Linked DNA regions of Homo sapiens. The protein of the gene in region 4 purifies or fractionates together with the protein of the main gene of each other region. This does not show direct contact. Each region holds a gene or a part of one and is shown on either strand. Other genes may lie near its edges. The genes, in order: DSG1, LIMCH1, CALU, STK38L, PFKP, PEX14 and SEC13.

What was found.
Region 1: the proteins of STK38L (region 4) and DSG1 purify together in Homo sapiens (affinity purification with mass spectrometry, with the first as the bait; one large-scale study listed by BioGRID). This does not show direct contact.
Region 2: the proteins of STK38L (region 4) and LIMCH1 purify together in Homo sapiens (affinity purification with mass spectrometry; one large-scale study listed by BioGRID and IntAct). This does not show direct contact.
Region 3: the proteins of STK38L (region 4) and CALU purify together in Homo sapiens (pull-down; one large-scale study listed by IntAct). This does not show direct contact.
Region 5: the proteins of STK38L (region 4) and PFKP purify together in Homo sapiens (pull-down; one large-scale study listed by IntAct). This does not show direct contact.
Region 6: the proteins of STK38L (region 4) and PEX14 purify together in Homo sapiens (affinity purification with mass spectrometry; one large-scale study listed by BioGRID and IntAct). This does not show direct contact.
Region 7: the proteins of STK38L (region 4) and SEC13 purify together in Homo sapiens (pull-down; one large-scale study listed by IntAct). This does not show direct contact.

The regions. Positions count from the first base shown.
Region 1 is NC_000018.10:31,356,160-31,359,746, forward strand, and holds the end of DSG1 (desmoglein-1 preproprotein), read left to right. Parts: 3' UTR 1-3,087; downstream 3,088-3,587. UniProt on the Homo sapiens protein: Component of intercellular desmosome junctions. Involved in the interaction of plaque proteins and intermediate filaments mediating cell-cell adhesion.
Region 2 is NC_000004.12:41,646,157-41,649,656, forward strand, and holds part of LIMCH1 (LIM and calponin homology domains-containing protein 1), read left to right. Parts: coding exon 1-124; intron 125-328; coding exon 329-737; intron 738-3,500.
Region 3 is NC_000007.14:128,763,359-128,766,858, forward strand, and holds part of CALU (calumenin isoform a precursor), read left to right. Parts: intron 1-3,500. UniProt on the Homo sapiens protein: Involved in regulation of vitamin K-dependent carboxylation of multiple N-terminal glutamate residues. Seems to inhibit gamma-carboxylase GGCX. Binds 7 calcium ions with a low affinity.
Region 4 is NC_000012.12:27,313,786-27,317,285, reverse strand, and holds part of STK38L (serine/threonine-protein kinase 38-like), read right to left. Parts: intron 2,783-3,500; coding exon 2,628-2,782; intron 2,272-2,627; coding exon 2,169-2,271; intron 1,998-2,168; coding exon 1,936-1,997; intron 1-1,935. UniProt on the Homo sapiens protein: Involved in the regulation of structural processes in differentiating and mature neuronal cells.
Region 5 is NC_000010.11:3,074,048-3,077,547, reverse strand, and holds part of PFKP (ATP-dependent 6-phosphofructokinase, platelet type), read right to left. Parts: intron 1-3,500. UniProt on the Homo sapiens protein: Catalyzes the phosphorylation of D-fructose 6-phosphate to fructose 1,6-bisphosphate by ATP, the first committing step of glycolysis.
Region 6 is NC_000001.11:10,477,950-10,481,449, forward strand, and holds part of PEX14 (peroxisomal membrane protein PEX14), read left to right. Parts: intron 1-3,500. UniProt on the Homo sapiens protein: Component of the PEX13-PEX14 docking complex, a translocon channel that specifically mediates the import of peroxisomal cargo proteins bound to PEX5 receptor.
Region 7 is NC_000003.12:10,307,613-10,311,112, forward strand, and holds part of SEC13 (protein SEC13 homolog), read right to left. Parts: intron 1-3,500. UniProt on the Homo sapiens protein: Functions as a component of the nuclear pore complex (NPC) and the COPII coat. At the endoplasmic reticulum, SEC13 is involved in the biogenesis of COPII-coated vesicles.

The DNA.
Region 1 (3,587 bases), on a different chromosome or scaffold from region 4:
TGACTTAAGAAAGCAAAACTCACTAAGTTTACTTCTCGAATTGAAGCAAGTGAGGCCTGACATGGTTGTCATCACTAGTGGCAAATGACCTTCCAAGTAAGCAGATGGGAACTGAATTGTGTTTTCAGGTTTTGTTTTTAGTAGGTGATATTCATTCGTATCCAGCTCTTTATTACATAGCTCTGAAGTTAAAATGATTTACATAGGCCGAGCTGTGGACAAAAAAAAAAGAAGCAGCAGCTTGTAGTATGCTTAAGCTTTGGGGAATTTTTTTTTAAGGGGATCTAAAAAAATGTTTTTAGAACATGTAAAATGTTTAATGGTGAAAGTTGGAAAAGAATTCTTCTGTAAAGTAATACCATGCTAATTATTCGCTTTTAGTAAGTAAAGTAGTGGTTGCTTTAGCAAACCTCTGCTGCCATTTTGCAGGAATCAACCAGGAACCTTTAGCAGAATTGACAATATGGTGTTGATAAGCATGAAATAATAATAGAAACCTATTCTGCTAGTTTATCTCACCCTCTAATTTTTCTCACTAGCATAAATTTTAAATTCCTGATTTGATTTGTCAATAAGATCTTGGCTTATATATGCTGATTTATAGGTAGTGTCCAAATTATATAGTATAACATATTTTTCTAGTTTCAAAATTTAGTAATGTCCTATTTATGATATATCATTTCTGTGTGTTTGCTATGTAGTATTACCCAATTAAAAATCTCTAAAAAGAATTAAAGCATTCTAAGAAAAAGGTAAATTTACTATTGCATGGTACAGAAATTTTTTCTTTCTTAAATACAATGTTACTATAAGCTCACTAAAATGAAACTCTATATGACAAAATAAAATTAGAAAAAAATTTGCCCTGGAGTTGTGAATTATATACAACTTTTAAAGAATTTACCCCAATTACTCAAATTTCCCAGGAAATTACAAAGCCAAAGAATATTCAACTTCCTCCACTGGTCAAAAGAGGATAGGAGTGAATTACTGAACCTAGAGCTATTTTGCTCTGTAACAACAGATAAGGCTAATATTTTAAAAGCCACAGTATACATCTTCTTTTAACTCTGTAGAATATGTAAAATTTTGATAGTCTGTAGTATGCTAAATGCAGAAGTATAAATAAAGTCATTCAAAGGGAGTCTTTTCTTTTTCTGACACTTAGGGGGCCACATTAAGGATGGGTAATCTTTCCAGGAATAAAGTCAAAAGGTATTTATTAAGACATACTTGAGTATGCCTGGGTCCAGGAGTTTTAAGGAATAGAAATAAGTATTAATGAATTAATTAAGTAATTTATTAAAGGGAATGGTAGCTGACCACAGGAAACTTGCTTACTGTTTTGATATGAAATATCATCACAAGCTTTTCTTAAGACATCTGATATCTTCCAGAGATATTTTTTAGGTTGTCTTGCAAACAACAAAATCACTGTCTTTAATAACTGTTGCTGTCAAAATCCATTGGTTGTTAAGATCCCCCCAATTTAGTTACATCTGAACTCCTAAACACTGTTAAACGATGGGAAAAACAAGAAAAAACATGGCCATTTGAGTCATTGAGTCATCTATCTTTCTAGGAAGATACTTTCTAACCAAACTTTTCTTCCAGGATTGCAAATTGATGGGAAAAACAAGAAAAACTGAAGTATTAGTCACCTATCTTTCTGGGAAGATACTTTCCAACTAATTTTTTCTTCCAGGATTGCACACTGATTTTCCATTTAGTCCTAAATTTTAAAATTCCCTTTTCAAGACATCAACGATTTTAGTAGTTATTTAAAGGCATGTCATTTTTCAATGAAGAAGTTTTGGGCAGAACTTCATTCTTCTTCTTAGATGTTTACTCTAGATCATATACATCATGTCATAGACCAAGAAGAGATATGGAAATTATTTTATAAGTGAATACTATAATTAGGATTCAAGCTGAGTTTCAGATCAACTTGCTCTTAACAAAAGGAAAAAGAAATAGTAATTTAATACTATGTATGTATGGTTTGAAAACAAACCACAATGTTTATAAAATATCTATCTGACTGTCTAAAGAGGTAATCTTTAGGAGCAAAAATCAGTGTATTATAAATACTTTACCATTTAATATCAACCAAAATACCATCTCAAGCTAATTTTGACACTGAATTACAGATATATCTGCTACATATTATTTACTTCTAAGCATGTTGTCTGATGTAATTGCATTTGCACTGAAAAATTAAAAGAAAAAGTACATATTTAGGGTTATTTATATATCTTCATCTAGACATCTGTTCTACATTTGTGTATAAAGTTTTTAGCATCATAATTTTTATTCAAGAAAATGTTCTGACAAAATTTTAATTATATGTCTTCAAAAATTACATTTTTTACTCTAGTAAGTAGATGTTTTTAGTTATCTGGCAATTTATTTCTGAATTTATACCAATGTTTGATTGTCATGGTACAAAATATATGACACCCTTTAACTTTTGCTGGAGTTGAAAGGCATTATAATCTTTAGCATAAATGGCCATGACTATTTTGGAAAGACATTTAAGACCCAAAGCAAACTTTTAAAAGTATTTGCCACATTTTCCCATGCCTATTTCATAAATTCCAACTTTTTTTTTTACAATTTCTGGATTTTTAAGACCCATTTCACATTGCACTAGGATACAGCAGTCCACAGTAGAGTGCTACTCTCCTTGAAATCAAATCTGTCTTCCACTTCCGGATTATTCAATTTATGTTAGGACAAATCTTGACTAGATCAACCTGTTTTCCATCAGATAATTTTAAAACAATGTGTAATCTTGTTTGTCTACATTCTCTCCCCAGTTTAGCTGTATTTGAATTACTAAATGCTTTATCGTCAAACTGTACCTAGTCTAACTTATTTTTCTTTTGCTGTCGTTTTACAAGCATTTTAAAATTCTAATATTCATCTCTGGTGGTGTTTAACACAAGGTTCTCTTATTCAAGTTTCAATATAAAAGTTTTTGGATTATTTGGGTGCTAGTTTCTTGCTTGGTTATCTGTTCGTTTTTTTAAGTTGATTTGTAATTTCCAAAGAGTTATGCATACAGCAATAAAATTATTAATATGCCTCCCTTATCTTTTCTGAATTGTAAGCAAGGGGGAGGTTTTAGACTGTAAAACCAAAGTTATCAAATCTAGTTATTATCATCCTGTATTGGAGGAGATACAATTCTTTTATTTTCACAATGTTAAAATATGTTTTCATTCTCCATTTCCTAGCTATCTTTTTTTAATGTGTACTGAGGAACCTACTCTCTGGACCACTAATTATAGATGCTAGAGCCCAGCCTTGACCAGGTGGTTAGCCCCACAAATGAACAGATGATAAAAAGCTGCATTTTTAGTTCTTATTTAATACTTGTAGCATCTTTATACTTTTACCTTTCTTTCTTTCATACTCTGCATTTTTATTTTTGCCTACACCAGCATTTTATTTCTTTTAAAATGACTTTTCTTCTTTTTTGCCCTTTAAATCATACCCTTTCATCTTTACTGGGATGCATCTCCTTTTGTTCTCCAATGCCACTTCCAGACTATTATCAACTTCATCTTGCACAAAATCTTACC
Region 2 (3,500 bases), on a different chromosome or scaffold from region 4:
TTTCTCAGGACTTAATCAAGAAAGAGGAAGAAAGGAAAAAAATGGAGAAGTTACTGGCTGGAGAAGATGGGACAAGTGAACGAAGGAAAAGCATCAAAACCTACAGAGAAATTGTTCAAGAAAAGTGAGTTCTTTCTGTTGTCGTTTTTAATGTACAATATTATCTAGGTGTTTTTTTTTTCTAAAAATTATTGGCTGTCACAAAGGTTCTGATAGTAACATTTTATATTCCCTGTACTATCTCTTCAGTGCTACCTTCGTTTCTACCAAGGTCTTCTTTGCAATTTTCATTAGTTGACTTTGTTATTGCTTCTCCCATGTCCTTTAGAGAGCGGAGAGAGAGAGAGCTGCATGAAGCATATAAGAACGCTCGGTCCCAGGAGGAGGCAGAGGGGATCCTTCAACAGTACATTGAGAGGTTCACCATCAGTGAGGCTGTTCTCGAACGCTTGGAGATGCCAAAAATTCTGGAAAGAAGCCATTCAACAGAGCCAAATTTATCCTCCTTCCTGAATGACCCCAATCCCATGAAATACCTGCGGCAACAGTCACTGCCTCCACCCAAATTCACTGCCACTGTTGAAACCACCATTGCTCGTGCCAGTGTTCTGGATACCAGCATGTCAGCAGGCAGTGGGTCTCCAAGCAAAACTGTCACTCCCAAAGCAGTGCCTATGCTGACACCCAAGCCTTACTCCCAGCCCAAAAATTCTCAAGATGTTCTGAAGACCTTTAAGGTAGGACAAGTTCCTTAAGAGTAGAACCAAAGCTGAACTCCAGGGAGTGGATGGAAAGAAGCATCATGACTCAAGAAAATGTCATTCTTTTTACCATACAAAAGAAAAATGTGTTGACATTTACAGCTGTGAAAGTCATAGGTCTCTGGAGATTTGGTTTGTAAATGCTTCAGGGACAGCTGTTTCCCTCAATTGCTGTTGTTAATACAGATGGACTCCTATAAGACTGATAGTGGAGTCGTCTCCATGAGCAAGGTCTATTTTCTAGTTTGATATAATGGCATGATTTCTCTGTACTAGTGGTAAAAACCCTAATTTAGTAATACCCTAGTATTTCTAGGTATCAGGAGGTATGGCAGACTCCTCAAAACAAAATTTTATTTGCTTTTGGTTCAAATAGAAGTATATGCAGCTACCTCTCTTTTAGGAAGAAATTGGCATTCAGCATCCATTTGACATTGTAGCATCCAAAAAGATTTTACAATTGATAAAAATACAAGGAACACATGGGAACATGGGACATACTTGGTCCTCAAATGAGACAGGTTTTTTAAACAAGTGGAAAGAAACTGGGTTGTTTTGCTAATGAGTGTGTAAAATAGTGTTCCAGACTGAAGAACTTGTGGAAACCAAACATCTTTTCGCTTCCTCAAATTCAAGTACTTTCTCTTATATCAGGAGGAAGCACTCATCCTTTGTCTTAAGTTCTTTTGACTTGTAAAGAAAAATCAGTTCCCCTTGTCCTTGCACTCAATGAGTTTGTAATAAACAGAGGTGGAATGCATCACTTGGAGATGTGACCATTAGATAGAAAAGTTTTCGTAACTGATTGAGCAGTGTGATGCCACGTAGCTTCCTTGCTGTATTTCAAAGAGAACAAAACCACACTTTCTGACTTTTGCTGAAATAACTCTGAATGTATCTCAAAAATCTCTATCTTAGGCTTTGATAGAACAAAAATGTCCAGACTGTCTCATCTGGATCACATTGAGCTGTTTGTCCCCTTATAAGGGCAGGGGCCATGTCTCTGTCATTCATGGCTTCATCCTGAGAGCCTGGCACAGGTGCCCAGGACAGAGTAGGCACTCAGCAAGTGCTCCTTAAATAAATAAGTGAATTTTTCCTGAGAAGATGAGCTACTAATCATATGGACTCACACACACACAGATAGACACACACATGCTCATGTGTGCTCAGTGGTCCACCTAAGTGTTTCAGAAGCTTTCCTTCACCTAGGGCCTATGATAATGAATGGCTATGGTATTTCCTGAAGGAAGATTCTATGTTGAGGTGGCCCAGAATAGGATAGAGAATACATTTATTTAACTGGATTTCCAAGGCATCTGACCAAACATTCTAGATGTCCACTTTCCCTCCTTTATCTAAATAGTGCAAAGTGATCGTTTAAACAGAAGGATTAGCATAAATGATTTTATGGCAGAACTTCAGCTCTGAGAAAACTCTGTTCTTCACCATGGCGGCAAAGTGGAGCAAGGTGGTATGGCGGCCTCAGGAAGCACTTCCATGGAGGGGGTTATTAGAGAATTTGAGCAGAGGCCCTCTTAGAGCTGGAGATTACTCCTCATCACTCACTAGTGGGGGTCCCCTGCCTCATTGTAGGCCTCACTGGCTAGTATTTCTACTGATGGCCTACAGTTCCATTACTGAGTGCATGGACAGCAACTTTGGTCAAAGGTCAAAGTAACATGCAAATCAGACCGTTGTTACCAGCTAATAATGCCAGGACAGAAGCTAAGGGGTAGGGGTGTGTGTGTGTGTGTGTGTGTGTGTGTGTGTGTGTGTGTGTCTTCTTGGAGGGCAGGGCAGGGAATACAGGCCCCGTTGTTTTTCCAGTACAACAGAATTAAGAATAAAGGAAGATCAAGAGAAATAGTTTAAGGCAGTGTTTTTCAAACTGAAAGTTACCACCCGTTGCTAGGTTATAAAATCAGTTTAGTGGTTTGAAGCCAATATAAAAAAAAAAGAACTAGAATAGAATATAATAAAAAAACATAGTGTGTCACACAATGAAGGCAAAATTGCTTGGGGCAACTTCTGTTTCAGTTATATTTATGTGTGTGTGTGTGTGCTGAGTTGTGATTTAAATTTCTTTTTATGGGTAACAAATAATAGAGTAAAAAGACCAGTGGCTTAAGGTAAATAAACTATAACTAATATCCAGCCTTCCATTATTTCTTTTAAAAGATTTTAAAAGGCCTAATGAGGCTGGGCGAGGTGGCTCACACCTGTAATGCCAGCACTTTGGGAGGCCGAGGCAGGCAGATCACTTGAGACCAGGAGTTCGAGACCAGTCTGGACAACATGATGAAACCCTGTCTCTACTAAAAATACAAAAATTAACCAGCCATGTTGGCATACGCCTGTAATCCCATCTACTTGGGAGGCTGAGGCATGAGAATTGCTTGAACCAGGAAGGTGGAGGCTGCAGTGAGCTGAGATTACACCACTCCACTCCAGCCTGGGTGACAGAGTGAGACCCCGTCTCAAAAAATAAATAAATACATAAATAAGAGGCCTAATGATAATAATGGCTAATAGTTAAGCACTTAAAATGTGTCAGGTACTGTTCTAAATTCTGTACATTTGATAATCCATAAAATCTCCATAACAGCACTATGAGGAAGATACTGTTACTTTAAATTTTGCATCAGAGCACAGAGAATAGGAAACCTGTTGAAGATTCCATGCCTGTTAAATGGTAGAGCCAGGTTTCAATCAGGTCACCTAACTGCACAGCTCCCT
Region 3 (3,500 bases), on a different chromosome or scaffold from region 4:
TCTCTACTAAAAATATAAAAATTAGCCAGGTGTGGTGGCATGTGCCTGTGTAATCCCAGCTACTCAGGAGGCTGAGGCAGGAGAATCGCTTGAACCCAGGAGGCGGAGGTTGCAGTGAGCCGAGATCGCGCCACTGCACTCCAGCCTGGGCGACAGAGCAAGACTCTGTCTCAAAAAAATAAAGTAAAATAAATAAAAATAGAAATTCAAATAGTTTATCATGGTCACCTAGCTTTAAAATGCGCTTACGTTGTAGTGTATTGTGTATTCTAGCTTCCTTTAAAACCATATCTTTTAAGCATGTGTCTATTTCCTAATTCAGAACTTTCCAATCTGTATCCTGTGAGTAAGTCTTCTTGGCTTTCAGGACAGCTAGGGCAGGAACCTGATCCAGTGGACCGTACAAACTACATTTTCTGAATGTGCTGTAGCATGGGAAAAAATTGGCAAGTCCTGCTGTGAGGAATTTCTCTTGTGAGTTTAAGACAGAGGAGTACTTCTACCCTTAACCCTCAAGGTCAGGAAAATGGCAGCACTGACTAAATAATTACCTTTGCTTAGAACTTGCAGGAACTATTTAGATTTCTCTTTAGGTGTTTTCCCATACCTTACATGCAATGCAGGTACACTTAACTTAGATGTCGTATAACTCAAGCATTTTCAGACTTGTTCACTTAAATAACTCCTGAAAGAATTTGACCAACAGCATTCCCTTATGTGTTTTAAAGTTGGCATCTGAAATATTTAATTAAGAAATTTAAACAGTTGTAAAGAATAGTCTCTGTTGGGCCGGATGCCGTAGCTCATTCCTGTAATCCCAGAACTTTGGGAGGCTGAGGCAGGTGAATCACTTGAGCCCAGGAGTTTGAGAACAACCTGGACAACATGGCGCAACCCTGTCTCTACAAAAAATACAAAAAAAAAGAAAAAATTAGCCAGGCATGGTGGCGTGTGCCTGTAGTCCCAGCAACTCAGGAGGATCACTTGAGCCTGAGGGTTTGAGGTTGCAGTGCACCGTTATTGTACCACTGCACTCCAGCCTGGGCAACAGAGCAAGACCCTGTCTCAGAAGAAAAAAGAATAATCTCTGTTGGTGATAAGCATTGACATTTTGAAAGTAATTCGGAAAGAAATCTATAAAATTTAAATACAAGATACCATAGCAACTTCTTACCTGCCGTCTTTCATATGAATAATTTGGACACGACAACTTTAAAAAGATAATCAAGAAATTTAAATTCAGTCTGGGTATTAGATGATACCAAGGAATTGATTTTGTAAAATATGAAAGTGGCATTGTGGGTATATAAGAAAATATCCGTAATTTTTTACATTTCATAATAGTTAAAAAGGAAATGTTTCTTTGGTACTTTTTTTTTTTTAGTTATGGCGTTTGGTTAGCAACAATGTGACCATCACTTAATTGCCCTTTTTTTTGTTTAAATTTATAGGGATTTGGGGATATTTATACTACTTATCAGTCACCACATGATATTGTCTTAAAAAAATAAATGAATAAACTGTTAACCAACTTGGACATTTTACACGCATCCTGTTTCTTCTTCTTCTTCTTTTTTAAAAAGACAAGAGTCTCATTCTGTTGCCCATGTTGGTGTGCAGTGGCACAATCACAGCAGCCTCGATCTCCAAGGTGGGGAGATCAAGTGATCCTCTCACCTCAGCTGGGACCACAGAAGAGCACCACCACACCCAGCTGATTTTTTTTATTATTATTCTTATAGACATGGGTCTCCCTACATTGCCCAGGCTGGTCTGGAAATCCTGGGCTCAAGAGCTCTACCTGCCTTGGCCTCCCAAAGTGCTGGGATTACAGACATCAGCCACCCGACCTCCTGTTTCTTTTTTTTCTTTTTCTTTTTGAGACAGGGTCTCACTCTGTCACCTAGGCTGGAGTGCAGTGGCATGATCATGGTTCATTGCAGCCTCGATCTGCTAGGCTCAAGCCATCCTCCTGCCTCAGCCTCCCGAGTAGCTGGGACTGTAGGTGCATGCTGCCATGCCTGGCTAATTTTTGTATTTCTTGTAGGGATTTTGCCATGTTGTCCAGGCTGATCTCAAACTCACAAGTCAGCCTTCTATTTGTTAGATTCATTTGCAGTTTACTTCCTCAACAGAATTATATTCTGACATATTTTATCTTGAAGCCTTAGTCACTTTGACATTCTTATTTGCAAGAACATTGTGTATGTAAATTGAAATATGGAAAATGGTGTTCTGTGATATGGCTCTTAAGTGTTTTTAGAGTCTTCTGTGTTAAGTTACTATTACAATTATTAATACACAATTGAACAAAATAACATTTATTACAGACGTTTTATGTTTATATATTTTTAAATGCATTTCTTTGACACATTTTTATTCAAATAGTTTCATATCCATGGATGACAATTACTTATCCCTAGAGTGAAATGGGATTCAGCACCAATTCCTAATTTTTATTTTTTAGAGGAAGTACTAACAGACCTTGTTTACATTAGTAAATAAGTTGATGGAAGATTTGTCATAGCAATATTGCTTAGTTCTTGGAACTCCTTTTGAGTTACATGCCAGAAATCATGTAATCTATCATCAAAAATTATGGGTTTTGTTTGTTTCAAGGTGGAGTCTCTCTCTCTCACCCAGGCTGTAGTACACAGGCACGGTCTCGGCTCATTGCAACCTCTGCCTCTGGGGTTCAAGCGATTCTCCTGCCTCAGCCTCCCCAGTAGCTGGAGATTACAGGTGTGGGCCAGCACGCCCGGCTAATTTTATTTTTTATTTTTAGTAGAGACGGGGTTTCACCATGTTGGCCATGCTGGTCTCAAACTCCTGACCTCAAGTGATCCACCCGCCTCAGCCTCCCAAAGTGCTGGGATTACAGGCATGAGCCACTGCACCCAGCCCAAAAATTATGTTTAATGATCCCTTAGCTAAAACTCAATTAGGCCATTTTTCAAGGTTTTTTTTTTTAAAGCAAAGAATTTAAAACCTTTTGACATGCAAACGAATTTATTCATTTTTTTTCAGGCATTTGCATTCTCAAGACTGACACTAGTATTTCTTTTTCTTTTTTTTTTTTTTTTTTTTTGAGACGGAGTCTTGCTCTGTCGCCCAGGCTAGAGTGCAGTGATATGATCTCGGCTCACTGCAACCTCTGCCTCCTGGGTTCAAGTGATTCTTTTGCCTCAGCCTCTCGAGTAGCTGGGATTACAGGCACGCACCACCATGCTCAGCTAATTTTTGTATTTTTAGTAGAGATGGGGTTTTGCCATTTTGGCCAGGCTGGTCTCAAATTCCTGACCTCAGGTGATCTGGTCTCAAACTCCGACCTCAGGTGATCTGCCTGCCTAGGCCTCCCAAAGTGCTGGAATTACAGGTGTGAGCCACCACGCCCATCCAGACACTAGTATTTCTAATTGTTTCTTTTTCATTATCTTGGAGCTTTTTACACTCTAGTTTCAAAATGGTTGAAAATATGCCTTTCTTTTATAAAGTGGGAC
Region 4 (3,500 bases):
CTATCTGAGGATGGCTTACTACTGGAAAAAGCAATATATAGAGGAGTTAAATTTTCACTTGTATTTATTTTGCATGTTTATCATGTGCAAGGCTTAGTGGTAGGTAGTGAGTCAGATAATATGTTATAGACTACTATTTTTCAGTCTATTTACTTTCCTGAGGGAATGCTGAATTAGTTTTCCTTTCATCACTTAGTTGAACAAATATTTATAGAGTGTCCATATGTGCCAGGCATTTTATAAGAATATATCATTTCTGCCCCCACAAGAAGCTCAGTTAAGTTATTTATATATATAGCCTTCAGTCTATTTCAAAAAGAATGAAAAAGTTGAACCTAGAAGACCTGGCTTCCCCACTCACTACTAATGTGTTCTTGGGCAAATTATTCAATTTCTCTGAGGCTCAGCTTCTGCTTACATAAAACTAGAATAATAATACCTGCCCTAATAGAGTTGATATGAAGATGAAACAATAAACGGCATGTGTTTTGTAAACTACAAACTACAAAAATAAGCATGAGGTATTTTCATTATAAATGTAATTCCAGGGTACTGCTTATCCTTTAGGAAGCTATGCAGTTTTTAATTCTTAATTCATATAAAATCTTACAAAAATGATTTCTACAAGGCAGTAATTCTCAACCAGGGGTAGTACTCTTGGGGCCATGGCAAAATGTAGGACCACAGATTTTGTCATCTCAGTGACATAACTGGCATTTACAGGGCAGGGGATCCAGGTGCTAAAGAAATTTCCTGCCCCAAACACTGAGTCCTCTCTACTTCTCCCTTGGGAAACACTCGATCTAAGGCTTGGCAACTACTGGCCATGAGAATAATAAAACACACACCTGAGTAATCACCCATGAATATTTTGTAAATAGGGGGGTACAGAATTCCCCCACCATAATTTTGAGCAGTATTCAGTTTTTCCCCTTTAAAAATAGGGAATATTGCAATTATTCTCAATTGCAAAACCTGATCTAAAATGGACACATTTTAAAAGTAGAACAAAGTTTTTCTCCTTAATGTGTAACTCAATACATTTAAAAATACTGAAATGTTTTACAAGTTTTTGCAGTTACTTAGGTTAATGAGATAATAAGCTCAATAATGCAAAGGTCATTTTATTTGGTTTTAGAGGGTATTAGCCTATTATTTTTCAGTCTGTTTACTTTCCTGAGGGAATGCTGAATTAGTTTTCCTTTCATCATTTGGTTGAACAAGTATTTATAGAGTGTCCGTATGTGCCAGGCATTTTATAAGAAATGAGAAAAAGAAAATCCTAAGGCACATTCTTAACCTGTAGACTGTTGATGGACCATGTTAACAGGACAAAGGGAAAGAGGAGAAAGGGGAAGCAATTCTTCTATTTGCTCAGTTATAGAAAGGAAATAGTATGGGGTTAAAAATAATGTAATTCTATATTAAAGGAGTAATTAAATTTATCTGTGGCAAAGCCAGCTTTTTCAAATTTTATCTGTTTTATTGTAACACTGTTTACATCCCAAACTTCCTGTTTACTTTGTCTATAAAGAAGTTTTTAGAAACTCACAACCACCTTACTTGCTGATTGATATTTGTTGTATCAGGATTTGTAACACAGTTATGAAAAATGGAAAAATGGAAATCACAAGGCATTCATTACAATTGCATTCACCTCAGTGAGTTTTATTTAAAGTGCTAATTACTAGTAAACAGCTTACTTGTAGGTATGCTCAGTAAACTACTCTAAAGTTACAAAGTAAAAACCAACACTTTGCTTTACAGGCAAGGAAACTTAACAGAGAAACTAAGAAAACTGTGTGATCCCAGAGCAAGCGCTACCATTGTTATGAAGTAAATACTAATTATTATAAAGATAAAAATAATCAAGTTAAAACCAGGTAAGATTTTAGAACCAAGGCATAAAATTCTCTTAAAAACTGGTTGACTCACCAGTTGTCTCCTGTTCTTCTTCCAAGTTTCTGCTTTCCTCTTTGAGTTCATGTTCTGAAATGCTAATTTCAACAATATGGAATTGTAATCACGAGGGAAAAATGCTCTCCACAAAAAGAAAATACATATACATCTAAAACACAGTGGATTAAGGAGTGGGGAAAGGGAAAGAACCTTCTGTTCTCTACAGTATCTTAACCAGGGGAAAGAAGAAAAACAACAACCAAACTTACAGAAGTCACTTGGTGGGTTGTGTGTGAGATTTCTATAAAATTCAGTCCTGTGAGCTTTCTTTAATCCCGTACATAAACCAAAATCAGATAATTTTACATGACCCTAAAAAAAAATCCAGTAAAATTAGATCATATTAACTTTGAAAACAAAAAGCCTTGTTATAAACTCCTCTATTAAATGGCAATTATAATAAAAATTCTTAGCTTGGGATTTATACACGTAAAATGTAAAATTTTAAGTATCTGATGATGATTTTTAAAAGTAGAAAATGGAGGGAGATAAAAAGAGAGCCATATTCCCTGTTGTCATTTAATTCCCAAGTCCTCTCCTAGTACCTTATCATATAATGTTGTTTAGCAATATTCTAAATTGCAGTTGCTGATTTCCATTCACAAAATCAGCCCTACTGCTCTAAAAAATAATCAACAGCCTAGTAATTCACCAGTTTATTCACATGCCTTGGCATCCAATAAAAGGTTGTCTGGCTTAATATCCCGATGGATGAAACCCAACTGGTGGATCGCATCTATTGCCAGAACAGTCTCTGAAATGTAGAACTGTGTTTCCTCTTCTGTCAAGGTGTCTTTCTTCATTAGCAATGTCATCATGTCACCTAAATAAAGGATAGTCAAATATATTATTATTGAAAATGCCTCAAAGGTGGAATACCTTGTAAAAGCTTTCCTGCTTTTTTTACTTTTTTTTTTTTTTTTTTGGAGACAGAGTCTCACTCTGTTGCCTGGGTTGGAGTGCAGTGGTGTGATCATGGCTCACTGCAACCTCCGCCTCCTGGGTTCAAACAGTTTTCATGCCTCAGCCACCCAAGTAGCTGAGATTACAGGTGTGCACCACCACACCCAGCTAATTTTTGTATTTTTAGTAGAGATGGGGTTTTGCCATGTTGGCCAGGCTGGTCTCAAACTCCTGGTTTCAAGCTATCTGCCTGCCTTGGCCTCCCAAAGTACTGGGATTACAGGCATGAGCCACCATGCCCAGCTAGCTTTCCTGAGTTTGCATTTTATGATCTACCCAGTATATTTCTAACCACATCTTGGGACAAATAAAAGTGCTATTGCATAGCAGAAGTTTCATGACTTTTAATGGTTTTAAGGCAGAGACCATGTGAAATCAAATCACAAAAGAGCTGATAATGAAGTAATATCTACCACTCAACTTCTAGAATTAACTGCTGAGGAAAATGTCAAACTGCAAAAAAATCAGAATAAGTGCACCTGGAAACGAAATATATTCTTTTAGAGTTTAGTGGGACATTATCCCACTAAAAAAGGCACCTGCAGACATTCTTTTATTTTCAAGGAATTTTAAAAGTT
Region 5 (3,500 bases), on a different chromosome or scaffold from region 4:
ATGCCTGTAATCCCAGCACTTTGGGAGGCCAAGGTGGGCGGATCACGAGGTCAGGAGATCGAGACCATCCTGGCTAACAGGGTGAAACCCCATCTCTACTAAAAATACAAAAAAAAAAATTAGCCGGGCATGGTGGTGAGCGCCTGCAGTCCCAGCTACTTGGGAGGCTGAGGCAGGAGAATCGCTTGAACCCGGGAGGTGGAGGTTGCAGTGAGCCGAGATTGCGCCACTACACTCCAGCCTGGTGACAGAGTGAGATTCCATCTCAAAAAAAAAAAAAAAAAAAGAAAAAAAAAAAGTAAAGAATAGATGAACTCTAATGAAATAATCTGGGTCTATCTTTTACCTCCTCCATTGTCTGGAGTAATAAAGCTCCCTGCCTCGCCCTCTCTCACAGCACTGAGCCACTTTTCCTGAATTTTCCCACACTCCTGATCACTCACTTGTTAATTTCAATGCATAAATTCTTTTTGAGAAATAAAGTCAGTTTGCCGACTCCTCCCGCTGCTTTGTTAGAAAATGAGCTTACACCGCGCTGATCTCACTACTGCTGCCAAAGTTCCTTCTAGGGGTCTTTCCTTTGATAATGTAGGGATTATGTAGGCATGGGGAGGTGGGATGCCAAAGGCAGATTCTGTCAAGGTGCTGTTCCCTCCCCACCCCTGCCAGTTCAAAGTCATCGAACTGGGGGGCCTCTCTGACCTCCTGGACTGTGCAGACCACCGTGTCTTCTAGTAGGGTCAGGGGAGGGCTTGAGATAAATCTGTAGGGCTCTTCACTCAACCACCAACCCACTGTCCAGCTCGGGTGCCCCAAGTGCCACCTCTGCTGGGCTCTGTGTGGATGCATCAGTGACAAGATGGGAAGCCTCTGGCCCTGGAAGAGCTTGTTCCGATCAGGAGAGACCCGAAAGCAAGAAACACAGTGAACAAATGCATGATGCCCATGGATGGATGGCCGTAAGTGCTAAGGAGAAAAATAACAAGCGGGGTGGGGGGTGTTGAGGGTGTGGAGGACAGGGAGGGGCTGCCATTGACAATCGGAGAGCCTGCAGACCTGCCTGAGAGTGACGTTTGGAGAAAGAAGGAAAGGGAAGAAGTTGAGGGAGTTTAGCCAAATGGACATCTGGGAAAGAGCTCAGGTAGCAGAGGGGCTGGGGCGGGGGCGCGGCGGCAGCATGCTGCATTCCAGGGTCCTCTGCGTGGCTGGGACAGTGTCGGCCCTCCCCTGCACATCCCTCAGAGCCTTCGCAAAAACACCCACATGGGGACCTTCTAAATACAGGCAGCACACGCCACCCATTGCGTGACCACACTGTCCCTCAGAGGAGCCGCTGGCCACGTGCGTCCCGTCCACATGGAGATGTGCTTTAAGCTTCTTTACACACTGGGTTTCAAAGACTTACTACGGAAAACAGTGTAAAATATGAATAATCTACAATAATTGATTGTTATCAAAATAGTGGATTGAATATAAAACATAGTTTTTTGCTTTTACCGGTTTTTACTTTTTTTTTTTTTTTTTTTTTTTGAGACGGAGTCTCGCTCTGTCGCCCAGGCCGGACTGCGGACTGCAGTGGCGCGATCTCGGCTCACTGCAAGCTCCGCTTCCCGGGTTCACTACTTTTTTTTTTTTTTTTTTTTGCGATAGGGTCTCACTCTGTTGCCCAGGCTGGAGTGAACTGGTGCAGTCACAGCTCACTGCGGCCTCCAACTCCTGGGCTCAGGCAATCCTCCCACCTCAATCTCCCACGGGGCTGGGACTGTAGGTGTGCACCGCCACGCCTGACTAATTGTTTTGTATTTTTTGTAGAGACTAGGTCTTGCCATGTTGCCCAGGCTGGCCTCAAACTCCTGGGCTCAAGTGATCCACCTGCCTTGGGCTCCTGAAGGGCTGGGATTACAGATGTTGAGTCTTGGCACCCAGAGTCCCCCACTCCCGGCCCCCTGCCCCGCCTTTCTTTAATGCGGCAACTAGATCATTTAAAATTGCATATATAACACAGGCCACCCACATGCAAGCCTCACTCTTGGGAGATTCTCCCGTTGGAGAAACCTCCAAGAAGCTGATCTGCCTGGATTTGCAAACTGCCCCACTGGCTCCAGAGGGAAGCCGCTCTGGAATCGGCTCTTCAATACTGCCCTTGAGTATACTGTGTACCTCTTGACTTTCGACCAGCACAAAGCTCCTTATTAAACGCTGACAAAAATTCCTTCCATTCTGTTGGGAGCAGGCCCCCCCAAATCTGGCCATAAACTGACCCTAAAACTGGCCATAAACAAAATCTCTGCAGCACTGTGACACGTTCATAACGGCCCTAACGCCCAGGCTGGAAGGTTGTGGGTTTATGGGAATGAGGGCAAGGAGCACCTGGCCCACCCAGGGTGGAAAACTGCTTAAAGGCATTCTTAAGCCACAAGCAGTAGCATGAGATATGTGCCTTAAGGACATGCTCCTGCTGCAGTTAACTAGCCCAACCTATTCCTTTAATTTGGCCCATCCCTTCATTTCCCATAAGGGATACTTTTAGTTAATTTGATATCTGTAGAAACAATGCTGATGACTGGCTTGCTGTTAATAAACACGTGGGTAAATCTCTGTTCTGGGCTCTCGGCTCTGAAGGCTGTGAGACCACGGATTTCCCACTTCACACCTCTATTTGTGTGTGTGTGTCTTTAATTCCTCTAGCGCCGCTGGGTTACGGTCTCCCCGACTGAGCTGGTCTCGGCACATTCCAGGTGCCATAATGGAATTAATTAATCTCCTATTGATAGTTTTTTGCTGGTTTTCCCACTTTTTGCTATTCTAAGCACTGCTATGAAGATTCTCCTTTAACCCCCACCTGCCTGTGTCTGTTGGAGCTCACATGCTCTACCTTCCAGCTGTAACAGCTGAGTGCCCATTCACCCCAAGCCCTGACACACTCAAGTCTCTGGGTCCCCTTGGCGGGATGTGTCTGTGGACACAGGGCTGCCCTGCCACGTGCCCCACCCCATAACCTTCCATCTGTGGCCTGCTCCTTGTGATACCCTAAACTTGTGGCCTCCCCTCCCCTCCTCTCCTCTCCACAAAGCCACCCTTATCGGAGACAGTCAGTCTGCTTCCCTCCACCTGCTTCCCAGTTCACCCAAGGCAAAGCCAAAGTCCTCCACTGGGCCACTCTCCTCTACGGACTCCTCCCTCACTGTCAGGTCAGGTCAAAGGGCCCCAACCAGAGGTTCCCCTGGGCCCTTTCATAAGACAGGAGCTTTTCCTCTCAGGTCAGGCTACAGGCACGTCGTACCCGCACCTCACCACAGGAGTGACAGCTCCAGGCAGAAAGGGCCTGGTTCTTTTGCCAAAATCCTGTCCTGACTCACCCAAGGCAGTCTGTTAACATGCACAATGATTACAGAAACACAGAAATAAGGCTGGGTGCAGTGGCTCCAGCCTGTAATACCAGCACTTTGGGAGGCCAAGGCAGGTGGATCACTTGAGGTCAGGAGTTCGAGACCAGCCTG
Region 6 (3,500 bases), on a different chromosome or scaffold from region 4:
GCGATCTCGGCTTACTGCAACCTCCGCCTCCCAGGTTCAAGTGATTCTCCTGCCTCAGCCTCCCAAGTAGCTGGGGCTACAGGTATGCACCACCAGGCCTGGCTAATTTTTTTTTTTAAGTAGAAATGGGGTTTCACCATATTGGACAAGCTGGTCTCAAACTCCTGACCTCAGGTAACCTGCCCACCTCGGCCTCCCAAAGAGCTTGGTATTACAGGCGTGAGCCACTGCACCTGGCCTTAAATGAGTTATTTATGTAAAAATGCCAGAACAGTGCCTGAAACAATGTGTTGTCTATTATTATTATTATTCAATTTAATAAGCTCTGAGTTTTCACTCACAAATGGATCTAAACCTTTCTTCAAGTTCTATTACGACATCTTTTGGGGTATGATTTTTCATGTGTTGACTACTTGTCTAGTAAAGTTCTTTTATTCAGAAGTAATTCCTTAAAATTTCAAGGAATGCCCTGAATGCTAGTGTTTATTCTAGCTGTCCTTCATGACTTTTGCATTTCAGGAACATACTTACTTTTTCATAATGGTATAGTCTTTTTAGTCTATCCTCAAGACGACTTGCTGGAATTTCATTTATTGCTTCCTTTGTTCTGTGTTCCCCACATTGCTCTGTTTTATGTGGTTGATCTATTGATTGAGACAGGGTCTCACTCTGTCACCAGAGTGCGGTGGTGTGATCATGGCTCACTGCATCCTTGCCCGCCCAGGCTCAGGCAATCCTTTCGTCTCAGCCTCCTGAGTAACCGGGACTACAGGTGTGCACCACCATGCCTGGCTAATGTATTTTTTTTTTTTTTGAGACAGAGTCTCGCTCTGTCGCCCAGGCTGGAGTGCAGTGGTGCGATCTCAACTCACTGCAAGCTCCGCCTCTCGGGTTCGAACCATTCTCCTGCCTCAGCCTCCAGAGTAGCTGGGACTACAGGCACCTGCCACCACGCCCGGCTATTTTTTTTTTATTTCATTTTTAGTAGAGACGATGTTTCACCGTATTAGCCAGGATGGTCTCGATCTCCTGACCTCGTGATCCGCCCACCTCGGCCTCCCAAAGTGCTGGGATTACAGGTGTGAGCCACTGTGCCTGGCCTGGCTAATGTATTTTTAAAACAATTTTTGTAGTGGTGAGTTCCTGGCTGGGCGTGATGGCTCATACCTGTAATCTTAGCACTTTGGGAGGCTGAGTTGGGAGGATCGCTTGAGGCCAGGAGTTTGAGACCAGCCTTTGCAATATAGGGAGACCTCGTTCCTACTGAAAATTAAAAAATTAGCCAGGCATGGTAGTGCTTGCCTGTGGTTCCAGCTACTTTGGAGGCTGAGGTGAGAGCATCACTTGGGCCTGGGAGGTTGAGGCTGCAGTGAGCGGTGATTGTGCCATTGCCCTCCAGCCTGGGTGAGAGAGCAATACCCTGTTTGGGGACGGGGGAAGAGACAGAGAGAGAGAAAGTGCTGAGATTATAAGCATGAGCCACCACGCCCAGCCAGCATGGCTGATCTCTCATTGAAGTCCTTTCTAGTGTGTACACGTTGGAGCCCGTAGGAATGAGAAACGTTATCTCTATTTCCCAACTTTCCTACTAGCTTTTCTTCCTTCGCTGAACAGCAGAGGCATGGTTCAATCTGATTACTTCACAGTTACTGAGTATCGAGTATTATTGCAGAAGGTAGATTTCCTATCTGTGGAGGTTCACTGGGTACAGTAAATTTTGCATTGAGAGGCTACAGAAGCAGGCAGGGAGAAGAGCAGAGTGAAAGAGTGGAAGAGCATGGCTTCGCATCCTGGCAGGTTTTGGTGGAACTTCATCACTCACAACTATTGGACTTATCACTCCACCTTTCTGAGTATGTTTTCTCCTCTGTAAAACGAGAGCAATAATAGTTACCCTTAAAGCTGGGTGTGGTGGTGCATGTCTGTAGTTCCAGCTACTCAGGAGACTGAGGCTGGAGGATTGCTTGAGCCCAGGAGTTGGAGTCTGTAGTGCACGATGATCACATATGTGAATAAACCCCTGTACTCCAGCCTGGGCAACAGAGTGCAACCCTATCACTTAAAAAATAAATAAATAAAATAAAAAATAATTACCCTTTTAGTGTTGACTGAAATCACAGATGTGAAGAGCACCTGCTGCATAGTAAGTGCTCAGAGTTAGTTTTCTTCTCCCAGTCTTTACATGTAGTTTTGAGAGTCTGTTGAACTCTTGAATAACAGCAGGTCAGACAAGGTATTTGCCCTCTCAATGTTTTTTTTTTTTGTTTTGTTTTGTTTTTGAGATGGAGTCTCCCTCTGTTGCCCAGGCTGGAGTACAGTGGCTCAATCTCGGCTCACTGCAACCTCAGCCTCCCAGGTTCAAGCGGTTCTCCTGCTTCACCTGCCTCAGCCTCCTGAGTAGCTGAGACTACAGGTGTGTGCCACTACGCCTGGCTAACTTTTTTTTTTTTTTTTTTTTTTTTGAGACGGAGTCTTGCTCTGTCTCCCGATCTGGAGTACAGTGGCACAATCTCGGCTCACTGCAACCTCTGCCTCCTGGGTTCAAGCGATTCTCCTGTCTCAGCCTCCTGAGTAGCTGGGACTACAGGTGCCCGCCACCATGCCCAGCTAATTTTTTTGTATTTTTAGTAGAGATGGGGTTTTGCCATGTTGGCCAGGCTAGTCTTGAATGCTTGACCTCAGGTGATCCACCTGCCTCGGCCTCCCACAGTGTTGGGATTACAGGTGTGAGCCTGGCACCTGGCCTCAACTTTTTATTTTGAAAAATTTCTCACGTATAGAAAAGTTGAAAGGATAATACTGAGAACTTCTGTAAAATTCCCATAAAAACTTAACCAAGATGCACTGTTCACATTTTGCTGAATTTGCTTTATGTCAGTCTCTCTCTCTCTTTCTCTCTCTCTCTCTCTCTATATATATATTTTTTTTTTTGGAAGGATTTGTGGTAAGTTACAGACATCAAGGATATTTCATCCTAGAATATTTCACCTTATCTCTCATAAGAGTAAGGTTATTCCCCTGTATAACCACAATATCATTATCACACAAGAAATTTAAGTGTTGATAAATAGTATTATTTAAAACAGAATCTGCACTCAAATTTTCACACTTAAAAAAAATCAGAATCTAGTGAAGAAACAGAGATTGCATTGATTTGTCTCTTTAGTCTTTTTTTTTTTTCCTTTCCTTCCTTTTTTTTTTTGTTTGAGACAGAGTCTTGCTCTGTTGCCCAGGCTGGAGTGCAGTGGTGCAATCTTGGCTCACTACAACCTCCGCTTCCTGGGTTCAAGCAATTCTCCTGTCTCAGCTTCCCAAGTAGCTGGAATTACAGGTGCCCGCCACCATGCCTGGCTAATTTTTTTGTATTTTTAATAGAGACAGGGTTTTGCCATGTTGGCCGGGATGGTCTCGAACCCCTGACCTCAAGTGATCCACCCACCTCGGCCTCCCACAGTGCTGGGAGCCACCGCGTCCAGCCTTAAACTTTGTTTGTTTGTTTG
Region 7 (3,500 bases), on a different chromosome or scaffold from region 4:
CATCAGATCTTGTGAGACTTATTCACTATCAAGAGAACAGCATGGAAAAGACCTCCTCCCATGACTCAACTCCCACTGGTTACCCCCTACAACACATGGGCATTCAAAATGAGATTTGGGTGGGGACACAGCCAAACCACATCATGGGGCTTTGCCATGTTGGCCAGGCTGGTCTTGAACTCCTGAGCTCAGGTGATCCGCCTGCCTCAGCCTCCCAAAGTGCTGGGATTACAGGTGTGAGCCACTGTGCCTGCCCTGGGCCCAGCCTTTTAACCCTCATTTCGTCTTAGTTCTCTACAAGTAACTATATATTTATGCTGAAGTCTTTGTAGTCATTTTAGTTGTGTGACTTGTATCCTCTAGTAGATTTCTCAGGAAGGGCTCCTAGAAACAATAGTCCCTGAATTCTTGCATATTGATAATAGTTCATATCCTTTACACTCAAAAGCTAATTTTAAAAACAGCTTTGATATAGTATAATTGACATAAACTGCATATCAAGTGCATGATTTGGTGAATTTTGACAAAAATATATCCTGTAGGATCATCACATCACCTCAATCAAGATAAGGAACATGCCCATCATTCCCAAAAGTTTCCTCGGATCCCCTGGTAATCCATCTCCCCATCCTGCAGCCCCCAATCGTGGTGACCATGGGCCTGCTCAGCTGCATTTCCTAGATATTACAGCAGTGGAATCACAGTGTGTCCTTTTTCTTCTTTTTTTCACTCAGCATAATTATTTTGAAATTTATTCTTCATCTTATTTTGTTAAGTCATTTCTTTTTATTGCAGTCATTTCTTTTTATTGCTCGCAGTATTTCCAAAGTATGGATATATCACAACTTATCATTTACCTGTTGATGGACATGTGGACTATTTCCAGTTTTTGGCTATTAAAGCTGCTATAACCTTTTGTGTATAAGTCTTTGTGTGAACTTCAAAGTCAATTTTCCTGGTTATAAATCCTTGGCTCACACTTTCTTTCCTGGAGTATTTTAAACATGTTATTCTTTTTTCTTCTGCACCAATCCTTACTATTGAAGAGTCTGACAATAATCTAATTGTCTTTCCCCTTTAAGTCACAAGGTTCCTTTTCTCTAGAACCCCCCAAAATTTTCTTTAAAGTCTAATAATTTTACTAGAATTATATCTTTTTGTTGGTGATGCTGAGTTGAATTTTTTTTTTTTTTTTTTTTTTTAGAGACGGGGTCTCACTATGTTGGCCAGGTTGGTCTTGAACTCCTGGCCTCAAACAGGAGTTCACCTCGATCTCCCAAAGTGCTAGGATTACAGGCTGAGCCATCACGCCTGGCCTTGATTTTTTTTTTTTTTTTTTTTTTTGAGACAAGTCTTGCTTTGTCGCCCAGGCTGGATTATAATGGCGTGATCTTGGCTCTCTGCAACCTCTGACTCCCGGGTTCAAGCAATTCTCTTGCCTCAGCCTTCCGAGTAGCTGAGATTACAGGTGTGCGCCACCACGTCTGGCTAATTTTTGTATTTTTAGTAGAGACGGGGTTTCGCCATGTTGGTCAGGCTGGTCTTAAACTCCTGACTTCAGGTGATCCGCCCACCTCAGCATCCCAAAGTGCTGGGATTACAGGCTGAGCCACTGCGCCCGGCTGATATTGTTAAGTGTGGGGTATGATCTCTCAATCTCAAGTTTCAAATCTTTGTTTTTTAATTTTAAGAAAGTTTTCTGGATTACTTTTTGGTATTCTGTTTTCCTTTCCAGGGACTCCTGGTATTCGTATGTCTGACCTTTCTGCCTGTCTTTACTTTTGGTCAAAACCTTTTTACCTCTTCATTTTTTTGCTCTTGAAATGTTTCCTTTTTCACACTGTTTATCCTTTTCAGGCAGGATCTGCTGTGTTCATCGACACTTGCATTTCGTCTTAGTCTTTCTTTACTTCTGAAATGATTTTTAATTCTAATTCTTTCCTGAGTTCTGTCACCTTATTTCTGATTTTTAAAAAGTTGATTTACACTATTCTCTCTTGTTTTGTATTGTTAGAATGTCACCTGGCTTGATTTGAAATAGCAGGTTACAGCTTGGCTCGGTTATGTGGGCATGTCTTTCTAATGTGCTCTCATTGTCCGCAGGGAGGTTATTTTGCATATTCTTGTTTCTTATATAACAACTGTATGCAATTTCACTTCAAATACTTTTCTGTTATTTTTAGGTGAGATGAGTTTTCCTGATAAGAAAGGCTCAGGAAAGTCTAAGCTCAGAACTCTCCCTTGTTTCTGTGTGGTGTTAAAAAACGTGGGAGATGGCTTTCAGGAGTTCCTGTCTTTGTTCCTCTTCCCCACATTGGTCTACATCTCATCCTTCCTTTCCTGTGTCCCTATCCAGCTCAACTGTGATTTCATTTCCTGCAGTTCTTCCTCCTGAGGGGCCCTGTCCCAGAGGCTTGCTCTGGAGGATCACAGAGCTCAGATTTCTTCCCGCCCCTTCAGCCTTTCTTATTGTGGGCCGCTTCCACTCACTCGGTGTTACAGAGTGCAAACCCCTCCTGGTCATTTCTCCAAAGGCCCCCAGAAGATGCTCACCATCATCTTTGATTAGCAAAATGCAAATAAAAATCACAATAAGGGCCGGGTGTGGTGGCTTACACCTGTAATCCCAGCACTTTGGGAGGCTGAGGTGGGCGGATCACTTGAGGCCAGGAGTTTGAGACCAACCTGGGCAAAATGGTGAAACCCTGTCTCTACTACAAATACAAAAATTAGCCGGGTGTTGTGGCGTGTGCCTGTAATTCCAGCTGCTCAAGAGGCTGAGGCATGAGAATTGCTTGAACCTGGGAGGCGGGGGTTGCAGTGAGCCGAGATCATGTCACTGCACTCCAGCCTGGGTGACAGAGCAAGCCTCCGTCTCAAAAAAACAGAACAAAACAAACCCAAAAAATCACAATAAGATACCACCTCACATTCACTAGGACAGCTGTAACCAAAATGACAGACATATGTTAGTGAGGATGTGGAGAAATTAGAACCCTCATACACTGCTGATGGGAATGTAAAAGGGTACAGTTACTTTGCAAAACAGTTTAGCAATTCCTCAAAAAGTTAAACACAGAATTACCATATGACTCAGCAATTTCACACCTAGGTATAGACCCAAGAGAATTAAAAACATATGTTCATGCAAAAACTTATCTGCAAATGTTCATAGCAGCATTATTCATAAGGCCGAGAACATCCATCATCTGATGAATGGATAAACAAAATGTCTATATTCACAATGGAGTATTATCCAGCCATAAAAAGGAATGGAGTGCTGATACACGCTATGATATGGATGAAACTTGAACTCATTATAGTAAGTAGGAGAAGCCAGTCACAAAAGACCACAGATTGTCTCATTCTATGTACAACTGATCCTCAATTTCATTTCATTATAATGCTGACAAGATTAAAAAAAAAAAAACAACTCCCAGCGGGGGCCCCTGCCTGTGTGGAGTCTGTGTGTTCTCCCTGTGTCTGCGTGGGCTCTCTCC